2 linked regions of the Homo sapiens genome follow. The protein of the gene in region 1 purifies or fractionates together with the protein of each later gene. This does not show direct contact. Each region holds a gene or a part of one and is shown in the gene's direction. Other genes may lie near its edges.

What was found. Proteins that work in one complex are often made in the same cells at the same time.
Region 2: the proteins of POLR2J2 (region 1) and RPAP2 purify together in Homo sapiens (co-immunoprecipitation; one large-scale study listed by IntAct). This does not show direct contact.

The regions. Positions count from the first base shown.
Region 1 is NC_000007.14:102,664,618-102,669,415, reverse strand, and holds the end of POLR2J2 (DNA-directed RNA polymerase II subunit RPB11-b1), read left to right. Parts: intron 1-411; coding exon 412-501; intron 502-2,151; coding exon 2,152-2,326; intron 2,327-3,252; coding exon 3,253-3,285; 3' UTR 3,286-3,370; downstream 3,371-4,798. UniProt on the Homo sapiens protein: DNA-dependent RNA polymerase catalyzes the transcription of DNA into RNA using the four ribonucleoside triphosphates as substrates. Component of RNA polymerase II which synthesizes mRNA precursors and many functional non-coding RNAs.
Region 2 is NC_000001.11:92,333,559-92,337,058, forward strand, and holds part of RPAP2 (putative RNA polymerase II subunit B1 CTD phosphatase RPAP2), read left to right. Parts: intron 1-2,788; coding exon 2,789-2,869; intron 2,870-3,500.

The DNA.
Region 1 (4,798 bases):
AAGAGGCAGAGCTTATTTTTCCTTTTTATTTTTATATTTTTGATACAGAGTTCCACTCTGTTGCCCAGGCTGGAGTGCAGTGGCATGATCTCGGCTCACTGCAACTCCACCTCCCAGGTTCAGGTGATTCTCCTGCCTCAGTCTCCCAAGTAGCTAGGACTACAGGCATGGATCACCACACTCAGCTAATTTTTTTTTTTTCTTTGTATTTTTAGTACAGACAGGGTTTTGCCATGTTGGGCAGGCTGGTCTTGAACTTCTGACCTCAGGTCATCCATCCACCTCAGCCTCCCAAAGTGTTGGGATTACAGACACGAGCCACCACACCTGGCCGGGAGGAGACAGGGTTTAGACTCAGGGTGGGAGGAGGGGAGCCCCTGCTCCTCATCTGTGGCCTCTGTGTCTTCCTAGGATCACCATTAACAAGGACACCAAGGTACCCAAGGCCTGCTTATTCACCATCAACAAAGAAGACCACACACTGGGAAACATCATTAAATCGTAAGTTTCCCGTCACAGGCTCTCAGGGGCTATGTTTAATGGGCCCCTCTGGGCAAAGCACAAGTTCCAAGTCTTCCTCAGTCTCTCTGAGCTACAGGAAGTCCTTCTGGGGGCTTGCTCTGGGCATTTTATAATCTTGGTACCTTTTTATCAAAATGACACCGACCTCCATGTCTTCACATAAGCCACACTTCTGTAGTGGCTTATTCTGTAGATGAACACGTGCATTTACATTCACTGTTTTTTTGTTTGTTTGTTTTTGAGATGGAATTTTCTCTCTTTGTTGCCCAGGCTGGAGTGCAATGGCACGATCTTGCTCACTGCAACCTCCGCCTCCCGGGTTCAAGTGATTCTCCTGCTTCAGCCTTCCTAGTAGCTGGGACTACAGGCCCACGCCACGATGCCCGGCTAATTTTTGTGTTTTTAGTAGAGACGGGGATTCACTGTGTTGGCCAGGCTGGTCTCGAACTCCTGACCTCAGGTGATCCACCTGCTGGCTTCCCAAAGTGCTGGGATTAGAGACGTGAGCTACTGCGCCCGGCCTTACATTCACCATTAAGTGCACATTCTGTAAATGAACGAGCAGCAGATTCCAGCACAGTAGGCCTGTTTGTTATTCATGCTGAGGGACATTGAAAAGCAGTCAAGATTAGCTCCCCTCATGCCACCCGTTTGTGACCTCAGTGCCACCTGGGCCTCTAAGATGTATGTGGCAGAGACTAGAACTTCTATTTAACAAGAGAAAGAAGTAGGAGTTCTGTGGCTATCCAGTGCCCCTAATGGGCACCCTGCATTGGTTGGTGGGTGTTTGTTTATACCAGTGAGGTCCTAGCCAGGTGGTTGGTCAGGGATGTGTCTGCCATTCTGGCCCAGGGACTTGCCATTTTACTGTAGACTTGGCTCTTCCCTCTGGTGCCACCAGCGAAGCCAGGCTTTTCCCCGTCTGTGAGTGGGGTCTGCCCAGTCTCCTGGTGTGGTCAGGCACGGGGATGGAGGAATCCTGCCTGGAGCCCAGCCAGTGGGGCACCCAAGCTCTCCTGGGGCCCTGCTGCTCCCCTGCTCTTGAGCTCAGTGTTGCCACCTATGCACGGGTCCCCCTTGTGGTGCTCACGCCACTCTGAGCCGCTCTAGAGGAGACCCCTGCGTGCCCAGGGCACAGTACGCGACGCAGCCCCATGGCACAAGGCCCAGTGTGCGTGGCCAGCCGCTGGCGGCTGTGCTGCTCGGAGGGCAGAGTTCCATTTGCATTCCACTCACTGCCGGGAGCTGGCCCTCCTCTCCTGCTGCCTTTATTTGCTGCGTGGATGCTCTTTGTGGGCTTTTTGGGTCTGAGTCACTGAACACTGGCTGGACATTCACTGCCTGGGAGATCTCTTTGCCAGCACTGCGGTGCCCGGTGGGAAGAGGTTGCTGGAATCTCTTTCCAGCTCGGGTCCTTCAACCTCATGGATGCAGAGTGTGTGTGTGTGGCGGGGATAGGGTGTCCCCACATGAGGTATCTTCCTAAAAGTGTTACTTTCCTTGAAGACTTTTTGGGAAAAAAGTTGGGGGGGATTTTTGGCTAGAAAGTCTGTTCTTCTGCTCTGAGCTGGCTGCTACCCAGCTTGGGCATGAGGCTAGACCCTCACACTGTCTGTCCCTGGACCTCAGACAACTCCTAAAAGACCCGCAAGTGCTATTTGCTGGCTACAAAGTCCCCCACCCCTTGGAGCACAAGATCATCATCCGAGTGCAGACCACGCCGGACTACAGCCCCCAGGAAGCCTTTACCAACGCCATCACCGACCTCATCAGTGAGCTGTCCCTGCTGGAGGAGCGCTTCCGGGTGAGGGCGGGGCCTGGAGGGGCAGACGGGGTGGGCTGGACACTGGCCCGTGTGCCCAGGCCTGGGACAGCCCTGGCCTGTTTCTTCGGAGGTCCTCAGGGAGAGGCGGCGGTGATGGAAGAACAGGGACTTCCACCACAGGCTCCAGGACATGTGGACTGAGGGGCTGTGGAGTCTGGGCCTGTGGCTCCCGTCTGCCCCATGGGACTTCTGTAGTGCTGCAGGGTCCCTCGGGTGCTGTGGGCCAGATCCGGGCGGGGACCTACTGTCCTTTGGGGGTGCTCTTCTACGTCCCTTGTCGGTGATTGGCAAGGCCTGGTCCTTCCAGGCCTCTGGGAGGCAGCTCACCCCAGGGTGGCCCACACCTGTTCCTAGCAGGGCGCCTGGGAATCTAGAACAGTTTAGAGGGGAAAGAGCCACAGCAAAGAAAAGCCGAGGCAGGGTGATCACGAGGTCAGGAGTTCAAGACCAGCCTGGCAAACATGGTGAAGCCCTGTTTCTACTAAAAATACAAAAATTAGCTAGGCATGGTGGCATGTGCTGTAGTCCCAGCTACTCGGGAGGCTGAGGCAGGAGAATCGCTTGAACCCGGGAGGCGGAGGTTGCAGTGAGCCGAGATTGTGCCACTGCACTCCAGCCTAGGTAACAGAGCAGGACTCCATCTCAGTCAATCAATCAATCAATCAATCTCAGCGGTTGAACTACCCTTGACATGGTTCAGCTCTGTATCCACACCCAAATCTCATGTCAAATTGTAATTCCCAGTGTTGTGGGAGGGACCTGGTGGGAGGTGATTGGCTCATGGGGGCCGACTTCCCCCTTGCTGTTCTCGTGATATTGAGTGAGCGCTTGTGGGATCTGGTTGTTTAAAAGCGTGCAGCCCTCCCACTTCACTCTCTCTGTCTCTCCTGCTCCAACATGGCCAGACGTGCCTGCTTCCCCTTCGCCTTCTGCCGTGATTGTCAGTTTCCTGAGGCCTCCCCAGCCACGCTTCCTGTACAGCCTGCAGAACTGTGAGTCAATTAAACCTCTTTTCTTCATAAATTACCCAGTTTCTCATAGTTCTTTATAGCAGTGTGAAAACAGACTAATGGACCCTTCTGGTTGAAGGAATGCAGCCATTCTGCTTGTTTGACTATGTCCTTTCTATTCATCTCTATTTCCTGGGAGGTGTTTATCCAAGTGCAATAGGAGGTATTGGTGACCGCACAGTCCCCTCAGTGTTCTGCTAGTAAATAGTTGAAGGTTGATCATTGATCTTCTGCGTTTTCAGTCTGGCATGGAAAAGCCCCTGTGCAACTGGTAAAGATATCAATAAGCACCAGGAGGTATCTAAATCCACCAGGAGCCATAGGCATCACGTTGACGTCCATTTACCAGTCTTCCCTGGCAAGATTCTTCTGAATTGTGCTGCCTTGGCCAAAAGAGGTATGGGAGGGGCTGGGCGCAGTGGCTTGTGCCTGTAATCCCAACATTTTGGGAAACCAATTCAGGTGGATCGTTAGAGGTCAGGGGTTCAAGACCATCCTGGCCGACATGGTGACATCCCATCTCTACTAAAAATACAATAAGTTAGCTGGGTTTGGTGTTGGGTGCCTGTAATCCCAGCTACTCGAGAGGCTGAGGCAGGATAATCGCTTGAACCTGGGAGGAGGAGGTGGCAGTGAGCTGAGATCGTGCCATTGCACTCCAGCGTGGGCAACAAGAGTGAAACGTCGTCTCAAAAAATAAAAAAAAAGTCCGGGCTTGATGGCTCACACCTGTAATCCCAGCACTTTGGGAGGCCAAGACGGGTGGATCACGAGGTCAGGAGTTCAAGACCAGCCTGGCCTAGATGGTGAAACCCTGTCTCTACTAAAACTACAAATATTAGCTGGGCATGGTGGCATGCACCTGTAATCTCAGCTACTCAGAAGTCTGATGCAGGAGAATTGCTAAAACCCAGGAGGGAGAGGTTGCAGTGAGCCGAGATTGCACCACTGCACTCTAGCCTGGGCGACAGAGCAAGACTCCGTCTCGAAAGAAAGAAAGAAAGGAAATTCCCCAGGGAAGTACCTCGGCTGATTTCATAAACAGGTACCGAAGGAAGCAGAGGCATGTGGAGGACTTCCCCACCTCATGCAGCTATTTGGGCCGTGGCGTCTGAAATTTATTATTTCAGAGTCACCCCTTTGATGACCTTGGCAGTGAACTGCAGTCATCTGTTTAGGCCTTTCCATGGCCCACGTCAATGCCGTTATTTCTGTTTGTTGCACATTTGATTTCCTTGTTGTTGGCATTTAGAAGGCCCCCTGCTTCCCAGATCACACCACGGGCATGGACCACAGAGATTGCATCTTGTGAGTCTGTAGAAATGGTCAAGGCCTTGTCCTCTCTTAGGTCCAGAGCTCAGGTGAATGCAGATTTTCCCGGCCATCTGTGCTGAAGTCCCTGTGGGGAGGCTCCTGGCTGGTTTCCTGTAGGTAGACAGCT
Region 2 (3,500 bases), on another chromosome or scaffold:
GATTTTGAACATTTTGAAAAATAATGTGAAAAGTTCACATGGATTTCTTCACTTAAGAAATTTGGATTTTTAAGATATTTTATCCAAGAAATACAAATTTTTGTGTAGAGGACACAGAGGCACATCATAAAGAGGAAGGTTGAGATTGTGGGTTTAGAAGACCAAACTACCTTACTCCCACCTAATCAGTGAAGTCAGGGAAAAAATATCAAAGCTAGACCCATTTAAATACTGATTTGCGGTAAATGTGTCACAGCAGTTTCAGATGCAAATAAGATGTTATTACAAAGTTTTAAGGGTCTGTTAAGTCACTCTGCATGCATATCCTTAGAACCATTTCACACTCAGCAACATGAGTTTTTGTTCAACTCAACGTTGCACTTTAGCTTTAAACTTCCCGTGGTGGAAATTATTGTTCTTGTAATTAGCCCAGTCATAAATGACATTTAAAAATTGCTATCTTGGTTTTTCTTTCAAAAAGAACTTGAAGGTTTTTTTTTCCCAGAGGTATGAGGGCTGTGTTGAACTTTTCAACCTGCATTTTCTTATTTTAGCAGAAAACATGGAAAAGTGTGTCAGTCATTATTTAAGGGTTGTGAATATGAAGTTTTATTTTGTAGCAGTTTGAAAATACAGAAAACATTTCACATTAACCAAGGCATAAAGAAGAGTGAAGACAAAACTAATTATGGTATAGGAGTTTTTTGTTGTTTGTTTATGAAAGCTGTTGGGTTTTTTTCTCATTATCAAAGTTAGACCTTTTTTGGTTTTTTATTTGAACCAACCAATTGTAAAAAGTGTTTATTTCAGAGTATCAGAGGAAATAAAATATGTTGTATATTAGATGACACTAAGGAATTGTTAATTTGGATGGTTATGATCATTTTATTGTGATTATATAAGAAAGTGCCTTTGTATTTAGAGATAAAAATGGAAACAGTTAGGGGTCAAATGACATGACGACAGGGATTTACTTTAAAATATTACTACAAAATAAGAAAAAAATGTGCCAGGTGTGGTGGCTCATGCCTGTAATCCCAGAACTTTGGGAGGCTGAGGCAAGGGGATCACCTGAAGCCAGGAGTTCAAGACCAGCCTGGGCAGCATAGTAAGACCACATCTCTACAAAAATAAAAATAAAAATTCGGCCGAGTGCAGTGGCTCACACCTGTAATCCCAGCACTTTGGGAGTCTGAGGCAGGCAGATCACAAGGTCAGGAGATCAAGACCATCCTGGCTAACACGGTGAAACCCCATCTCTACTAAAAATACAAAAAAAATTAGCCGGGCGTGGTGGCGGATGCCTGTAGTCCCAGTTACTCAGGAGGCTGAGGCAGGAGAATGGCCCGAACCCAGGAGGCGGAGCTTGCAGTGAGCCAAGATCGCACCACTGCACTCCAGCCTGAGCAACAGAGTGAGACTCCATCTCAAAAAAATAAATAAAAATAAAAATTAATCGGGTGTTGTGGGGCTACTACTCAGGAGGCTGAAGTGGAGGATCGCTTGAGCACGAGAGTTTGAGTCTGCAGTGAGCTATGATTATGCTCGTGATTAAACTGTTCTCCATAGTGGGTGTACTAATTTACATTCCCACCAACACTGTATGAGGGTTCCCTTTTCTCCACATTTCTCACCAGCATTTGTTATTGCCTGACATTTGGATTATGCCACTGCACTCCAGCCTGGGTGCTGAAGGGAATGAAAAATGAAGCAAAGGTAGCAAAAATTAAGAAATTGAATCTGGAAATAGATATACGGGATTATTACTATTCTTTCTATTTTGGAACATGTGTGAAACTTTTTATACTATCACACTGGTCTTAAAAAGAAGCTTAAAAAAATAAAGTAACACATACTTTAGAAAATGAGGCAGTACAAAATGGTTTAAAGAAGGAAGTAAAAATTACCTGTAATCCCACCACTCAACAATAACTACTATTAATATTTTGATGTATATCCCTGACATATATATGGCATATGTATATTCATTCTATTTGGTTCTCTCTGTGGATAAACCTAGAAGGAATGAAATATGCTTGATATATATGAAGTACAATGGTATTATATAATACATGTTTTTATAAAAATAGGATAATACTATGTACATTTTTCACTTCACATCTATCATGAATATCTTTTTATATTAAAAAATAGATTCACATTATTTTAAATGTCTTATTCTATTAAATGGGTATAGCATAATTTATCTAACCAATCACCTATTGATACACATTTGTTTCTGATTTTTCACTACTAAAGCTATTTCTGCAACAAGCATATTTTTTATGTTCATCTGATTATTTCCTTAGATTAAATTTTTTTCATAGTAAAACTGTTGGGTCAAACACATTTAAACTGTTAATATATATTGTCAAATTGCTTCCTAAAAAGGTACTAATTTTCACTCCCACCATGGGGATTTAGTAAGGAAGAATATACCACACTCTCAGATTGGACCATTTTGGGGGCAGTTGTGTTCTTTCCATCTTGGTCTAATATTTGAAAATAAACAGGTAAGTAAAACTAGGGACAAGAATTTAAATAGCTGCCAAAATGATTTTGTGTTTCAGTGCTTCACACTCAGTAACAGACTACAAAGTGGAGTGTGGGGTTACTATGAATGTTTCCTTATGAGTTCTCACCAATCATAACCTAGGTTAACCTTTAAATCATGACTGCTTCCATCTAAATGCCATTATTAGCTATGGAAAATTCAGATCTAGGCATGACCCAAAAAAAGTTTCCATATAATTTTGTTTTAAAATAAATGTAATTTTTAAATTTTCAGGTTGCCTGGGCTTCTGGTTCCTCTTCAGATTACATTGGGAGATATTTACACACAACTTAAAAATCTTGTTCGAACTTTCAGGTTAGTGTTTATATTACAATTATCCTTCTCAATTATTTTGACTTTATTTATTGCCTTGCAGAATCCAAAGGCACAGAGAAAGTAAGTGACTTACCTTTCAATGTCACAGATCTAAATACAGTATTCTATTTTCTCCTCCACTAAACAACATTATTTCTCTCTTCTATTGAATGCAACCTTTATTTGCTCAAGCCATTATATATTTCACTTTGGATAGTTTATTTACGGAATAGCCTAAAATTGAGAAGGAAAATTATATCTATGATGCAAAGCCAGTAATACTATGGGTTTAAGTGAAATAGTAAATATATATTGGCTGACCCACACTGCACCAGGCACTATGGGTAATGTAAAAGAAACATAGTGCCACCCTAAAGGAAGAACTCTCCTCTGTGAAGATCATGTGAGTACAGTAAACAGTACAAGACAGTGGGCAATTTAATATTGAATTACACAGAACAGACTTAAAGTGCTAAGAACTATAAAGAAAGGGAGAATAGAGAATTGATATCAATTGTGAGTGAAACTGTTGTGATTTTTCCTAAAACTATCAAGATAAAAATACTCACTCAGGCTAAGACTAGGTTCTCTCTACCAAGAAGCATAGCAATAAGCCTCTAAATGGCTTATT